Linked DNA regions of Homo sapiens: region 2 is linked to region 1. The links come from fine-mapping of genetic effects on gene expression. Tissue or cell type: lung. Region 1 holds a variant in brackets; the other region holds the start of a gene. All regions are shown on one strand. Distances are between the middles of the regions.

Region 1 (8,107 bases):
TAAAGGCTGAGGCGGGGCAGATCATTTGAGGTCAGGTGTTTGAGACCAGCCTGGCTAACGTGGTGAAACCCCGTCATTACTAAAAATACAAAAAACAGCCGGGCGTGGTGGCAGGCGCCTGTAATCCCAGCTACTTGGGAAGCTGAGGCTTGAACCAGGGAGGCAGAGGTTGCACTGAGCCGAGATCGCGCTACTGCACTCTAGCCTGGGCGAGAGAGCCAGACTCTGTTTCAAAGAAAAAAAAAAGTTCAGAATCTAGGACGTAGCAATCAAGGCATTCATGGGCTGTCATCTTGCATATTTTATCTCAGCGTTCCTTTGCATGTAGCTCATGGTTGGAGGCAGCTGTGTGGAATTGCCTGCATTTCCTTCTCCCCACATCGCACTAGTTCTATGTATGTAAATATTCAGCTTCTATGTATACAAATATTCTTTATTGAACCAGGTTTAAACTACCTAGCAGTGAGGATCGTGCCTTGCAAATGTTTGTGTCCTTAATGATTTGCAAACACCACCACCCCCCTTGATAATTTAGGAAATAGCAGTGAGTTGGTTTTGATTTTTTTTTTTTGAGACTGAGTCTTGCACTGTCGTCTAGGCTGGAGTAGAGTGGTGCAGTCTCCGCCCACTGCAAGCTCCGCCTCCCAGGTTCATGCCATTCTCCTGCCTCATCTCCCAAGTAGCTGGGACTACAGGCGCCCACCACCATGCCCGGCTAATTTTTTGTATTTTCAGTAGAGATGGGGTTTCACTGTGTTAGCCAGGATGGTCTTGATCTCCTGACCTCGTGATCCGCCCGCCTCAGCGTCCCAAAGTGCTGGGATTACCGACATGAGCCACCGTGCCCGGCCGGTTTTGATTTTTATCATATAAACTTAGATATTACTTTTAAACAAGTTTGAAATTGTTTTTAGGACACTTTCCCTCCAAAATTAGCGGTTTGTTTAATTTAGGTTCTTGTATGCTACTGTGCCTGCAGTAAGTTAAGGCCGAGCAAAAGCGCAGTAGATAGGGCTCTGTTGGAGTTGAGCAGATACCAGAGGTGCACAGCTGGGTCTGAAGAGCTACACAGGGGAAAACGAGATGGTGAAATGTATTATTAATAGCATTAATGGGAATAGTGACAGGCACAGCCTGGTGAGTGGAATGTTTACCCATATACTAAGCACTCAATAAATCTGATGTATTTAAGCAGCAATGATCAGTAGCAGCTTCCACCAGTTCTTGGAAGTTTAATATTTAAATACACATATGGCAAAGAAAAAACACAGGATTTGGTCAGTGTAAATTTTTTGTAATTTATTTCTCTTTTCAAGCAGAGTCTTTGTGGAAGTGGTGAAAAGTACATCCCACCTCATGTGAGGCAAGCTGAGGAGACAGTGGACTTCAAGAAAAAGGAAGAACTAGAAAGGCTGAAGAAACATGTAAAAGGTCTACTTAACAGGTGACCTTGTAGTGTTGTTACACTGTGTCACTTAGAGAGGTTGTCTGTTTCCTAAAATGTAGGAATTATCCCAGCAATTCAAATAGAAGTGATGGGGACAGTCGATTGGATCCTTTCTGTTCTTGGCTTGATGCACCGAGACCCATGAGACCCATACCTCGAGAAGGAGAGGATACCCGACTGTTGGCTACTTTGAATCCCTTTAGGGTTTGAGAGCAGCCCAAATGCTCACATTGTTATTCTGAGAAGCAGGAAGGAAAGGGGCAGAGGTTCTTTGTCCGTCTAAGGACAGTGTTGGAAGGACTGGCTTATGTCCCCTCTCTGCAGAAACACATTCACCTGGTCTTCCATCCCCCTTACTCATTGCTCATGTCTGCATTTTGTTGTTACCCACTTTAAGAACAGAACATTTAAAAAACTGATTGGAAACCATACAGGTGGGGCTTTGTCAGTTACACGTGCCCATCAGCTCTTTGGTTTTGAGGATGTGTGTGTGCATGTGATTCTGTGTAGGTTTTTTTGTTTTGTTTTGTTTTGTTTTGAGATGGAGTTTTTGCTCTTGCTGCACTGGCTGGAGTGCAATGGCGCTATCTCGGCTCACTGCAACCTCTGCCTCCACCTCCCAGGTTCAAGCAGTTCTCCTGCCTCAGCCTCCTGAGTAGCTGGGATTACAGGCATGCGCCACCACGCCAACTAGTTTTGTATTTTTAGTAGAGACGGGATTTCTCCATGTAGGTCAGGCTGGTCTCAAACTCCCGACCTCAGGTGATCCGCCCGCCTCAGCCTCCGAAAGTGCTGGGATTACAGGCATGAGTCACCGCACCGGGGCAGTTCTGTAGTTTTATCACATGAAGATTCGAGTCACCACCGCTGCAATTGAGATAAAACTCACCACCATCTCTCCCCTGCTGCCCCTCCATGGCCTCACCCACCCCCTTCCCCCTTGTATTGCTTTTTGTTTCCTGTTATCCTGGGAATTTATATAAACCTCTGTTTCAGTGTCGAGTTCAGTATTAGCACAGGTTCACAGTGAGTAACCTTCCACGTACATATGTGTGTAGTGTCCCCACTACCCGTTCAAACAGAGCAGCCTTTTCTAGTGTTAGGAACTAAGGATTTTTGTGCCACCTAAGAAATAAAACGTTAGCATTTTTTCTAACAACACGTCCTAAGGCTGGACCCTGCCTATGGGATATCAGGTCAGAATATTCAGGGGAGTATCCTCACGTATGTTTCTGTAGACTTAATCCAGGGTATGCCTCAGTGTGGCCACATTTCATCTTGTAAAGACAGCAATTACATTGTTTTGGGATTCCAGAATATTATCTGGTTATGAATAATATATGCTGGGTTATTGGGGCAAGATAAGAATAGTTAAGGGGTCAAAAGTGTACATAAAAATAGAATATATTGTTGGTATGGATAACTCTTTAATTTTTTAAAATTGAACTGAAAATTCCTAATTGGAAACATTGTTGCTCTCTGTCTTTACAATTCTCTGCAGGTTGAGTGAACCCAACATGGCTTCCATCAGTGGGCAGCTGGAGGAACTGTACATGGCCCACAGCAGAAAGGACATGAATGACACCCTGACCTCCGCTCTCATGGGTGCCTGCGTCACTGCCTCGGCCATGCCCAGCAGACTGATGATGGAGCATGTTCTCTTAGTCAGCATCCTTCACCACACAGTTGGAATCGAGGTACAGTTGTACCTTTTCTCCAGGCTGTCACTAGTGTCTCATGGTGATTATTTTAATGATAGGCTTGATAAGTGCGTAATTGTGTGCTGTGGGTGGTTCTTGTGTCGATTCCTTTTTGTTGTGAATAAATACTCTATTGTCTATGTCATGTAGTTGTAAAGAGCATTCAGGAAGTACTTGATTACTTGATTTTGCTTAACTTTGCTTTTTTGTTCTGTCCATTCTTTTTTTTTTTTTTTTTTTTGAGACAGGGTCTCGCTCTGTCGTCTAGGCTGGAGTGCAGTGGCACGATCACAGCTGCAGACTCGAGTGATCCTCCCACCTCATCCTCCAGA[G/C]TAGCTGGAACTGCAGGCGCACACCACCAGGCCTGGCTAATTGTTTTGGTGGGAGCAGAAGTGGAGTCTCACTCTGTTGCCCAGGCTGGTGTCAAATTCCTGGGCTCCAGTGATCCTCCTGCTTTGGCGTCCCAATGTGTTGGGATTACAGGCGGGAGCTGCCATGCCCAGCCCTGTTCTGTCCAGCCTAGCATGTCTTTTATGTTAGTTAATTTTCTTCTCGACTGACATCTCAGACGTGCCTTCATTTCCTTTGCACTTCTCCCTTAACACTGATTTATTTCAGATGTTTGGAAGATAATGGTTGGTGTGGTCTCACTACTGAGGTGTTGGTATTGATGGGAGATGTGAGAGCACTGGGGCATGGAACTGCCTGGACATGTTCAGGGAGACCTGGTGCCCTTTCTGTGTCATGGCCCTTTCTCATCAGTGAAGTGGGCTTTTGTTGGGATTGAACTGAACAGTGTACAGAAAGCATCTGGCACCCGACAGGTGCTAAGTAAATGTCCACCCCACCCCCACATCCCTTTCGTATTCTTCTTGCTCCACAACCCTTGTGGTTAAAGTCAGAGAGGCTCTTTGGTGATGGCCTTGGTTCCACAGTCACTGCCCTCTTCTGGGCCTGTTCTCTCTTAATTGAATACAGGAAAGTCATAACACTCCCAGTCAGTATCCCAGTTCCCCCAAGGTAGCTGATTTCAGATGTGTTGAAGTAAATCCGTCCAACTAAAGGAGATTGTTGTGAGGTTGGTGAACGAATGGAGGGTTGGGTCAGTGAGGCTTAGTTTTCCCGTGATACAGTATTTACATGCAAATGCAGTGTTTAACCCATTTGGATCTTTAAATGATAGTCTCTTTTAATGGTGGTTCTCTTAGTTTTTTGCCTTCTGACAGCTCTACTCCAAAAAATAGGCCACAGCAGCACAGCATCCCTAAAAGTCTAATTACCTGGTGTACGTTTATATACTTTCGTCTCCTCCTCACCTTTAATCCTAAAGTGTCCCGGTGAGATCAGGGCAGACCTTTACTGAAGCTTGCTTTGCAGTGCAGCAGGCAAAGCCGCTGAAGCGCTATGTGAAATTCCCAAGATCACGTCTTGTTAAAAGTACACAGAACTTGTTTTCTGGGCTCCTAGGCAAGCATGCTTTCTACTGCAATGCTAGTCACATTCATTTCATTTTTATATTACTTTCTCTCAATTATAATCTTAACAGTTATTTAGAGTCTTACCAAGTGGGGCTCTCCAAAGCTTGCTTTAAGATGCACATATTTGCCGGCCGGGCGCGGTGGCTCACTCGTGTAATCCCAGCACTTTGGGAGGCCGAGGCGGGTGGATCACGAGGTCAGGAGATCGAGACCAGCCTGGCCAAAAAGGTGAAACCCCGTCTCTACTAAAAATACAAAAAAAAATTAGCCAGGCATGGTGGCGGGCGCCTGAAGTCCCAGCTACTCCGGAGACTGAGGCAGGAGAATGGCGTGAACCCAGCAGGCGGAGTTTGCAGTGAGCCGAGATCGCGTCACTGCACTCCAGCCTGGGTGACAGAGCGAGACTCAGTCTCAAAAAAAAAAAAAAGATGCACGGATTTGCCAAAATGAAGTAGCCTTCTTGTCACTGGGGCTTCTGTGCTGAAGGCGGCATGGGGTGGGTGGAGATGCTGCCTGAGTACAAAACATGCTGTAACGCGCACGGTCTGTGTCACTTAGATGAACTTGTGCCTCCGAGTCTTCCTGTGTCCAGTCGTTAAGGTCAACGAGTTAGTTCATGTAATAGGCATAGGAAAGAGCTGGCCCACAATAAGCGCTCATTGAAGGCTCATTATTTATGTACAGAAGGAGATTTTCGTGTTTTAATTCTGTTCTTCCTCTGGCTGGCTTTTCCTACCACTGCTGATTTCTTTGTTGTTGCTAGATAATGTTCTGATCCACATTTTTCCATGTCTAGCAGTAGTTGCATGGTGGCAGCTTTTTGAAAGGCCTGTGGGGCATTAGGAAGCTGAGGGCTGGAGAGAGGGGCACAGGCCTGAGCATCTGAGTGCGGGACTCTTCTGAGCTACATGGGTCATCTCAGATATGAAAATCTGCACCAGCTGCTTTGGGAACCCTCTTGTTATTTTTTATTTCTAAGAGCTGTCCTCATTTTCATGTATGAGCATGTGGGAGTCTGTTTTCTTGTCATTACAAAGTGATGGAATCACTGGGTGCCATTCCTGGGCCCTGTGATTACCATAATCAGGGCCATTCTGTGACTTTCTTGGTACCTCCCTGTCCTCCTAGAGGACACTGGTATGCTTCAGCTGACTTAATCATCAGAATGATCTTAGTATAGGCAGTATCTCAGTGAGTTACAGGAAAAGCCACAGACCGTGACCACCCACAGCACATCAGGAATTTACTTGATTGGAAAACATGAGATAATTGGGCCTACTTTCATTTAAACCTTTGCTAATTGCATGAAGGACAATGAAATGACTTGTTCCGAAGGGAAGTCATTACAGTACTTTAGTTAATGACATCCACAGAAACTTCTGCCAGCGTGTGATGAGCTTTCAGGGTGCTGGCTCCATTCAGCTGCTTTCAGTCCTGTACCGAGAAAAACATTCTGTGTTAAAGACGATGGTGTCAGCTGCTGAATTGCTTCTGTAAGTCCTTTAAAACTCAAAAACCCAATCTATGTAGATTCATGTTAAAATTTCCACATCAGAGTTAACGTACAGGATGTGCTTGAATAACTTTACCAACGTGAATTTTACTTATATTCTTAAATGTTATGCTGTTATATTTTATTTTGAAGACATTAAATGGAACTTCAGATTTAGAATTTTGAGAAATTTTGATGTAATATACATAATTGAAAACATACAGCCGGGTGTGGTGGCTCACGCCTGTAATCCTAGCACTTTGGGAGGCCGAGGCGGGTGGATCATGAGGTCAGGAGATTGAGACCATCCTGGCTAACATGGTGAAACCCCGTTTCTACTAAAAATACAAAAAATTAGCCAGGCATGGTGGCAGGTGCCTATAGTCCCTGCTACTCGGGAGGCTGAGGCAGGAGGATGGCGTGAACCCAGCAGGCGGAGCTTGCAGTGAGCCGAGATCGCACCACTGCACTCCAGCCTGGGCGACAGAGCGAGACTCCGTCTCAAAAAAAAAAAAAAAAAAAAAAAAAAGAAAAAGAAAATATACATGAATATGTTTTATGCCTAAATTTTTATTGACGTCTGCAGAATTCTAATTTACTTTTAAAAATTATATTTGACTATAACATGGTTGCCATAATAGAATGTGTCTTCCAGTTTATCTTCATTGAAGGGGCTTGAATGGAAACTACAGGTTGGCTTGGTTAAGTCTCAGGTCTTTACAAACTGAAGTGTATATCCAGTCCATCAGAGCTGGCCTCCAGGAAGTCACTGTGGCCTCCCGCCAGTCTGTTGCCTTTCTCTGGATTCTTCTAGCGTTGATTTCTTTGCAGTCCAGCAATGATGTCTGTGTACTTCCCCATACACTCAAGACTGTCTGGTGGATCTCAGCCTTGCCTGCGATTTTCACTGACACCCTTAGATCTCCATCCAGTCCTGTCTGGATGGCCCCTGTTGAAGCTTAATAACCCCTGAGCTGGTCTTGTCCAGCCCCACTAGCTTGCTGCCCCTCACGTAGTTCCTGGTTACCCAGACCAGAAACCTGGGAGTCACAGATCCTTCAGCTTTTACAGCCGGTGTCACACACTGCCATGCGTTGCTGTGTTACCCAGGCCCTTCATCCCTGGTCCAGCGCAGCTGCGTTATTTAGGCCATCGTCTCCTGGCTGGGCTGTGGGGGTCACTCTTTGTCACCACCATGTCCCTGCTTCCGCCTTCTCCCTCCAGTCCCAGCTTAAGTTGAGATTTGACGGAAAATGATGACACGGTAGTGTTGCCAGCAAGACTGAAAACGACTGTTTTCTGCCTTCAAGTTTTATTATCTCTCTTTTACACAGTGAAAAAACAGGGTTCCAGGAACTTGCTGAAGACCACACAGACCCACATGCAGGTCTTCTCATCCTTCAGTCCACAGTTACGGAATTCGGGATAAAATGTACCAGAACAGCACAAGGAGAACACTTAGGCCTTGCTTAGCTCCACCAGGCCCGGCAGTTCCTGGCCCCACTTCCGCCCCTCAGGGCAGTGTCTGGTTTACCTGCTGGTCCCCATCAGGGCCCAGTGCCCCTCAAACCACTGGCTGAGCCAAGTGAGTGTATTCACAAGCTACCTTAGTGCCAGAGACTCAGCCCTGGGAAAGTAGGGCGTCTCCTCCGTGCCACCTGGAGCCCTTCCAGAGATTATTAAGTACCTGTCTATTTGGCAACCTCTGATATTCAGAATGTGTTGCGTTTATCTGTTTTAGAAATCACTCGTATTGCTTCCTTGTAAGAAATGAATTTGGGGTAAAAATCTGCAAAAAAATCTTTTAAGAAATGAATATTGTTAGGTAGTGGAACTTTTTTTTTTTTTTTACACAGAGTCTTGCTCTGTCGCCCAGGCTGGAGTACAGTGGCGCAATCTCAGCTCACTGCAACCTCCATCTCCTGGGTTCAAGCGATTCTCTTGCCTCAGCCTCCCAAGCAGCTGGGATTACAGGCATATGCCACCACGC
Region 2 (8,107 bases), 310 kb before region 1:
ACCACAAGAATAGTATGGGGGAAACTGTCCCTATGATTGAATTCTCTCCACCTGGCCCTGCCCTTGACACATGGGGATTACTTACTACAATTCAAGGTGAGATTTGTGTGGGGACACAGCCAAACCACATCAGCAAGTTAGGAATAGAAATTGATAATAAATATACAAGTGTGGGAGGAGGGATAGCATTGGGAGATATACCTCATGCCAGATGACGTGTTAGTGGGTGCAGCGCACCAGCATGGCACATGTATACATATGTAACTAACCTGCACATTGTGCACATGTACCCTAAAACTTAAAGAATAATAATAAAGAAAGAAAAAATAAATAAATAAATAAATATACAAGTGTGAGTAGAAAGTTAAAGGTAATACAGAAGATTAAGAAAAATAAATGGAGAGATGGTTTTGGTGAAGGTTAAAATTGAGAACTAAATTAAAGATGAACCCCATGCCACCAATTTCTGCTCCTTAGGTTTGTTTTAGATGTCAAGGACTGTGTTAAGAGAGACAAGAGTCAAATAGGCACTGAGTAGGCTTTGAGAATATTTTGTACATAACAAAGGAGAAATGTGAGAGCATTAAGATACTAAAATGTGAGAAGGATATTGAACTAAGAACCATTCTGACCCTGCCTAGGCTTTCATTAGTGCAGTGTTTAGAGACTAGGCAGGTGGGCAAATTCAAATATTATGGGTATGATACATTAAGAATCCATAGGCCAGGCACGGTGGTTCACGCCTGTAATCCCAGCACTTTGGGAGGCCGAGGCAGGCGGATCACCTGAGGTCAGAAGTTCAAGACCAGCCTGGCCAACATAGCGAAACCCCGACTCTACTAAAAAATACAAAAATTAGCTAAGCGTGGTGACGGGCACCTGTAATCCCAGCTATTCGGGAGGCTAAGACAGGAGAATTACTTGATCCTGGGAGGCAGAAGTTGCAGTGAGCCGAGATGGCGCCACTGCATTCCAGCCTGGGCAACAGAGACTCTGTCTCAAAATAAATAAATAAATAAATAAATAAATAAATAAATAAATAAATAAATAAAAATACAGGGCCAGCACTAGTATCCAATATCATGATCTCTAGTGTCATCATGAAGAAAACCCCATCTTCCACAAGCTGGACTCCAACTGCCTATTCTAGTATTTGAACACTTTCTGTGAATTGCGCTCTACACAAGCAAAATATAAGATTTTCCCTTCATATCAATGTCTTCCACTTAAATAGTCCGCTATTGCCATCCATCTTGGGCTGCTCTTCCTTGGATAAGCACAGGTATCATCACTCTTTTTGTGATAATGTTTATACAACAGATCTCTTAGAGTACCACCCGCAGCTTTCTTCTTAAGCACAGTGGAGTACAGAAGTGCATCTTAATCAGCCAAGTACACTGGTGCCCTTCTCCTTGTGACTAAGCACCTCAACATCCTTAACATCATGCACCTCTAATTTTCTCTTCCGTCTCCACTATTCCTAGGACATTCAATTAGTGGTTTTGAAATTCTAAAACAATCATGTGGGTGCTTACACAAATGGCACTGAACAGCACCATGGAGAATGTACTCAATAGCAGTTTTCTGAAGATGTAAACATGCTTTGTATACATGCAGTTTCTCAGGCCCATCTCAAAAAAACAAAAAAACTTTTTTAAAACAAAAGGCATAATGTTAAAATACAAATCATTGATAACATGGTTTTGGGGACAAGATAGGTTGACTATATTTTTAATTATCCCTATCCAAGAATGTTGCATTCTGATCATCTAACTCATTTCAACAGAACACACTATCTTGAAGAATGAATGTATTCTTCAAATATCAACTATGTTAGCTTTGTTTTTGTCAAGAATTAGAAAGCAATAAGGTTAAATTTTCAGTCAAGCCTATACTTAACACAAATCGATTGCACATTTCAAAATAGCTAGAATAATTTGAATGTTCCTAGTGTAAATAGAAGATAAATATTTAAGGGGATGGATATCCCAATTACCCTGATTTGATTTTATGAATTTATCGAATTATCACGTTATCCAAAAACATGTTCATCTAATATGTATCAATAAAAAATAAATTTAAAAATAAAAAATTCACAATATTCTTCGTGGCTAACTGAAGAATGACCAATTTATTTTGAATAGAAAACATGCAGACAGAAAAACTATCATGAAAATTTAAACATGTGAACAGAGGGTAGGAATTTTAAAACGGTAATTTTTCTTAGAACTTTAAAGTTCAAGAAAAATACCTTAAAACCAACATAAAGAATAGCAGGCACTGTACTAAGCAGTTCACCCACAGTATCATGTTTTAATCTCACCACAGCCATAAGGCGGTAATAGCATGCATAGATATCATTCCAATTTTTCCTGTTGCAAGTAACAGAAAACCAGACCCCATCTGGCTGAAGCCAGTAAGAGAAAAGACTAACAGGAGGGCCAGCCTCAGGACTCAAATACGTCACCAGGACATGGGTTGCGTCCCAGTCTCAGCTCTGCCAGTTCCTGTAGAACCCTCCTTCCAAGGTTCACAGGGTGGCTACCATAGCTTCAGGCCCTCACCTCATGATAAGACAGCAATACAACTGCCATTTCATGTCTGTTGCTGTTTCTACATTCAGTTAGAATTAAATAAATTTTCCAGTAGCACCCACAAAAATACTGAGTCCACCTGGTTGGCCTACCTAGATATATCGCCAGCCCTGATCAAGTCACTGGTCACGGGCCTGGATTTTCTGGTTCGCTTAGGCTAATCATACGTCCCATCCCAGGACTGAAGAAGTACCAGGGCTGTTGCTGGAGAGTGGCTAATGTCCCCTTTACAAATAAGGAGCTCATGGTTTAGGAAGATGAGCTTGCCAAAAATCACACACTTGTAAAATAAGTCAAAATTTGAACTTAAGTCTACTTATCTGAGCCCAAAGTCTTACAACCATTTATGGCTGTTATCCTAACACCTACGTCGCGGAACGGAAGAGTCCTAAGACTGCAAAGACCCTTCCTTTTCTTCTAGATCCAGTCTAAGTTGGTTGGTAATTTCTTTAGACCCTGCTTTCAGGGAAGTTTAAAAAAAATTACTTGCATTTGTATATTTTCCTTGTATTTTCGGCCAAATTTCTTCTAATTAAAGTACAACATAAGTTGAACCAACACAATAATTGTCATATTAAGAAAAGATAAAACAAACTTTACTCATTTCTGCTTCTGGGCATGGAGTGTGAGGGACCAGACTTAAGTTCTCAAACAACTACAAAATCAGACCAAAAAATACAATGGTTTCCAGGCACCGGACGACAGGCAGTGCAGGGCTGTGATCCTTAAGAGAAGGGAAGCAGCGAGCCAGAGTATCCAGGCCACAACCCAAATGGAGGCCAAGAGAGGAACAGCAGAGGATACAGAGGGAGGGTTCCAGGGGCCAAGACGCAATCCGAGGGGAAGCCCTTCCGGGGAGAGCTGGAGTCCTGGGGTGGCCTTCTCGAGTCTTCCCGAGCAGGTCTGTGCAGCGAGGAAACATCCGAGGCTGGAGTGAGCCACGCGGAGGAGGAAGAACAGCCCGAGCTCACAGGGGCGGGGAAGAGTTCTAGCTCGCGACAGCCCCTGGGAGGAACCCTGCACTATTTGTGGCGTCGAGTAAAGCACCGGAAGGCTCTGCTCAGGAGCGTGAACGACACCGCCCGCTGCAAGCCTGGAAAGGAACGCGTTGCCTCAATTCACTCCGATGTGTCACACACGCGGCTCAGTCACCTAGGGAGCAGGAAAAGGCCAGCGGGCCACGCAGGGCTCACCCGGGCCTGCATCCAAACGCAAACGGCCAGGCCCACGAAGCAGGAAACACAACCCGCAACGAGAAGCAAAGGGATCCACAGAGAAGGGCCAGGAGTCACGGACGACGCCAGGCAGTCGGCGCCTGCGCTTCCGCGAGCCAAGACGCCTGAGCGGCGCGGGGGGATCGGGGGATCCCCCAGAAAACTGCCCTCGACTAACAGCGCAGCGAAGGGGCGGTGCGCTCGAGACCCTGGAACGGGAACGACCACAGCCACCGCAGGGAAACAACCGGGGCCCAGGCCCAGGTGGGCGGGCGGCTGAGGAGCGTGGCTGCGCCCACAAAGCCGCCGGGGGCTGCGGACTACAGCGAAGCCGGCGCGGGGCTCGGCCCTCACTACACGAGGCCTGGGCGCCTGCACGCCCCCGTGCTTCAGCCCGCGGCTCCCGAACACCCCCGCCAGGCGATCCCCAAAAACGCCCGCTGCGCGAGCCTCGACGGGAACGCACCTGCGTCTAGACGCTGACGCCGTGCGCGGGGCGGGGGCCGGCGAGCATGCGCAGTGTGGTGTGGACAGGGCGTGGTTGGCAAGCATGCGCAATGTGGGCCGGGCGGGGCTGGCGAGCATGCGCAGTATGGGGCGGGGCGGGGCAGGGCTGGTGAGCAAGCCCGCGGGGAGCGAGCGCGGAGGCGGGCGTTGCTACGGCAACGGTGGGCGGCCAGGGAGTTGCCTGAGGGAAAAGGGGCAGACGTCCCTGGGTTCCGGTGTTCGCGGAGGAGTCGAGGCACGGAGAGGCTTCGGGGGAGGGACGGAAAGAAGGGTGGCCCGCCAGGCGGGCGGGGTCCATGGATTCGGGGTGAGGGCCGTCCGCGGCCTCGCTTTCGCCTCCTCCGAGCCGGGCCGGCGATGGCCGCAGCTGTGAGGCGAGGTCGGGTCCCGTAGCGGCGCGCAGCCTCCTTGGGGGACTCGGGGTCCTGGTTAGTTTCCACAGCTCCTTCTATCTGAGGGGTACGAATTTACGGCTGCCTAAAGCCTTAGAACAGTGATCCCACGTCGGTAATTTTAGAACCCGGTAGGACCGGCTGCCATCAGGGGCCCCAGGTGCAGGGTGGTGTCAGCTTTGAGAGGAATTGGAGCCTCGTCACCGCGCGCTTCCTGCATGAGTGGAACCTCAGAAAACGGTCAGCGGGGTTCAGAAGGCAGGAGATAACACCAAGACCCTACGTAGGATTGCATCTTTACGTCGTAGGCTTGGTCTCGTGTATTTTTATTGAGCGTGTTTAATTAGCTGAGGTTACTCGCTTTGGCACCCCAGTGATCGTTTTTGCCACCAAGCTCTGCCTCTTGAGCGTTTAATACTGGGATTTACAAAGCAACGGGTTCCTGTTAATCTTAGCTTTCAATACTGGGCAAGGGTTACGTTTCTAACCCTACCAGTGCCGCAGGCTCATTATATATTGAAGGACTCACCTGGTATTTGGTTTTCTCATTTATAAAGTGGAGTTGGAGTAGGTACTTGAAGGGTTTTCAATACCTTTAAATTCTGAATTTTAAACTCTAAAACTTAATGATACCGTAGGACTTTAAGAGAGTATAGGTTTTAAAAGCTCTTACCTTGATATTAATGACAGTGGTCTACTGTGTAGAAACTTGAGATTAAATTGCAGACTGCAGCTATGACCGGACCATTTTTAGTGTGATGCAAACTGTATCTTCTGCAGGTTATAGGCATTTTGGAAGCAGGAACTGAGAAAATTCTGGCAGTGATCTTTCAGTATTTTAAATTCCACCATTTCTCCAAGTTCAGTTGTCTTGATGAGATACAGGGTGGAACTTATTTCAAACATCTCTTGATGCCAGAATTGAACGGGAACAGAAAAGGGCTGTAGTAAGAACCATCATCAAAGCCTCCAGGACTTGAGCAGCGACTGACGTTTTTACTTCTAACCCTGGATATCTCAGAGATTTGGTTCCACTGTGCTTTTCTATCTCTCCACTCACGCCTTAGTGAGTTTGTTCTTTCGGTTGGAGTAATTTAATACAAGTGTTAGTCCTTAGAAATACATTTTGGATTAATTTCTTTCTATTTTTAGAGTTAGGCCCTCAACACAGTAAGTCTTCACTTAACATCATCCATAGGTTCTTAGAAACTGGAGCTTTAAGCCATGCAGTGTACAAGGAAACCAGTTTCACCATAGGTTAATTGATATAAATAAGAGGAAAGTTCCCACAGCACATTCCTGGTCACAAAAACATCGCCAAACTTCTAAATAAAGACCAAAGCACTTCTAATATGAAACACTGAAGTACATATGAGCTCTACATTTAAGAAATATCATTACCCAATTTCTGGTGAATCCATGAGTGACCGGGTTGTGGAGGGGCTGTGTTAAAGATAATGTTGGCCAAGCCAAAGCTCTGAAGCACCTCCCCCTACCATGCAGTTTCAAAACAAACAGGAGCCACTTCTCAGCCCGCTGGGCCTTTCTTACTGCATCGGGTATTGTCCTGCATCTCTGTGTGAATACCGTATGCTTTACGAGTTTTTATTTGACAATAATTTGTATCCTTTCATTTTCCAACCTGCTTATTCCAGTTCAGGGTGGCAGGGGGCTGAGCCCATCCAGGCAGCTCAGGACCAAGGCGGGCAACAGTCCTGGAGAGGACGGCATCCCATGGCAGGGCACACTCACACTCACTCAGACGGGGACGCCCCAGTGAGCCTCACGTGCACAGCTTTGGGATGTGGGAGGAACCCGGGGTACCTGGAGGAAACCCACAGCACATGGGGAGGACGTGCAAACTCCAAACAGACAGTGGCCCCTGCTGGGGATCAATTTTTTTTCTCATCAGCGTTATAGGGAAACAACATTAGAAGAAATATGTTCAAGGGCCTTCTGTGCCAGTTCCTAGATTACTTGAATAACTTTCTATTTCTCCTCATCACAGTATATTTTGAATACATCTGTCTTCATAAAATACACCATGTCCAAAATCTAAAAGGGCCAATTCCAAATTATTCCACCAGCTTTGAAGGGAATTGAAGCAAGAATAACAAGAGTAAGTTCTGTGTGAAAAGACCTACTTTAGATACTTCAAAGGTTGTCTCATTAATCCTTGCGGCAACCCTGCAAAGCCAGCGTTATTATACCTGCTTTATAGATGAGGAGCCTGGGGCTCAGCTGTGTCCAGTATCTTGCGCAGCAAAGCGGTAGAGTTCAATTGGAACTCAAGTTGGTCTGTCCCCATATTCTGTACTTCTGTGTTCTGGACAGACTGAAGTTAGCCAGTGTTCCTCTTGCGTTCCAGTTTCTTCATTGTTCCCTTTCTCCCCAAAATAAGCATATCATGCTGATTTCCAGCCTGCCAGTTCTTTCCTCCTACCTGTAATGTGCCATCTTCATTTCCCTCTGTGTATCTTTCAAATGCCAGTTTAACTGGTTTTTCCAAGTCTCCAGTGTTAGCCTGAAGTTTTGTAGTACTTATGTATCATGTTATATTTAGCAATGGATTAATTCATAGTAATTAACCATTTGTATTAATGTGTCCTCAGGAGCTCAGGGGTGAACTATTTGAGGACAGGGATGAGTCGAAGCATAACTGACTTGAGTTCACCCCCTTCCTCCAGAACCAGAATGTGTAGCTTAGTGCCACCCTGTAGCAGGCATTCCTGCTGCTTCAGGATCTGTTAGACTCTTACAGAGCATCCTCACAAACTTCATGGTTTTTCTGTGCACTGTAACTTTGACTTTCTGTTGACCACGTCTTTGCAGCAGAAGAATAGAAGGAAGGTGATAGGATGTGATGATAGAATTTGTGATAGCCAAGCAACAACTTTTCCTAATTCGGCATGTTAAAAAATAAGGTACGCTATTCTTTTCTTAAACATACACGTTATTTGACTCATGAAATGTATTTTAATTCAGCCATTTGAGAGTATAAAAACTAGTTTGCAAACCCTGCTTGAACTAGGAATTGTCAGCAGGAATGGGCGATGCCAAGTGTCGCATGGGGCAGTGGACAAGCCAATGGAAAAACAATCTCTGGCGATATTTACTGCAAGCATCTCTTAGCTGTTTGGTGATTTTTATTCTGCACAGGAAATTATTAAGTTTTCACAAAAAGGCATAAGCTGAAATGGCAGGAGTCTCCTTAGTAGTTGCCTGGAGTCTAATTTAATTATAGTGAAGCAGCGTGGGTTTGTTTAGGCATGCACAGGTTTATGGGTCATAATGAATTTATTCATATTATAATTAAGGCTTTCATAATTAAATGAAAAGATATTCCTGTATTGTTAACATAAATGCTGAGACAAGGGTCTGCTCCTACTTAGGTAACAAT

What was found. PIP is the estimated chance that this variant, and not a neighbour inherited with it, causes the effect.
Region 2: it holds the start of RNF32-DT, and the variant in region 1 is fine-mapped to the expression of RNF32-DT in lung (TOPMed, PIP above 0.99).

The regions. Positions count from the first base shown.
Region 1 is chr7:156,951,155-156,959,261 of GRCh38, forward strand. It overlaps NOM1 (nucleolar protein with MIF4G domain 1), which reads left to right. Exons shown (of 11, transcript NM_138400.2): 2 at 1,320-1,444; 3 at 2,949-3,144. Among named protein-coding and RNA genes, the nearest start is that of NOM1, 5.5 kb to the left of the region's middle. The variant G/C (reference allele first, on the strand shown) is at 3,480.
Region 2 is chr7:156,636,262-156,644,368 of GRCh38, forward strand. RNF32-DT (RNF32 divergent transcript) reads right to left here and starts at 4,274. Exons shown (of 4, transcript NR_026865.2): 1 at 2,687-4,274. It overlaps RNF32 (ring finger protein 32), which reads left to right and starts at 4,513. Exons shown (of 9, transcript NM_030936.4): 1 at 4,513-4,550; 2 at 7,540-7,631. The coding sequence starts at 7,617. RefSeq lists an enhancer at 3,944-4,535 and a silencer at 4,104-4,413.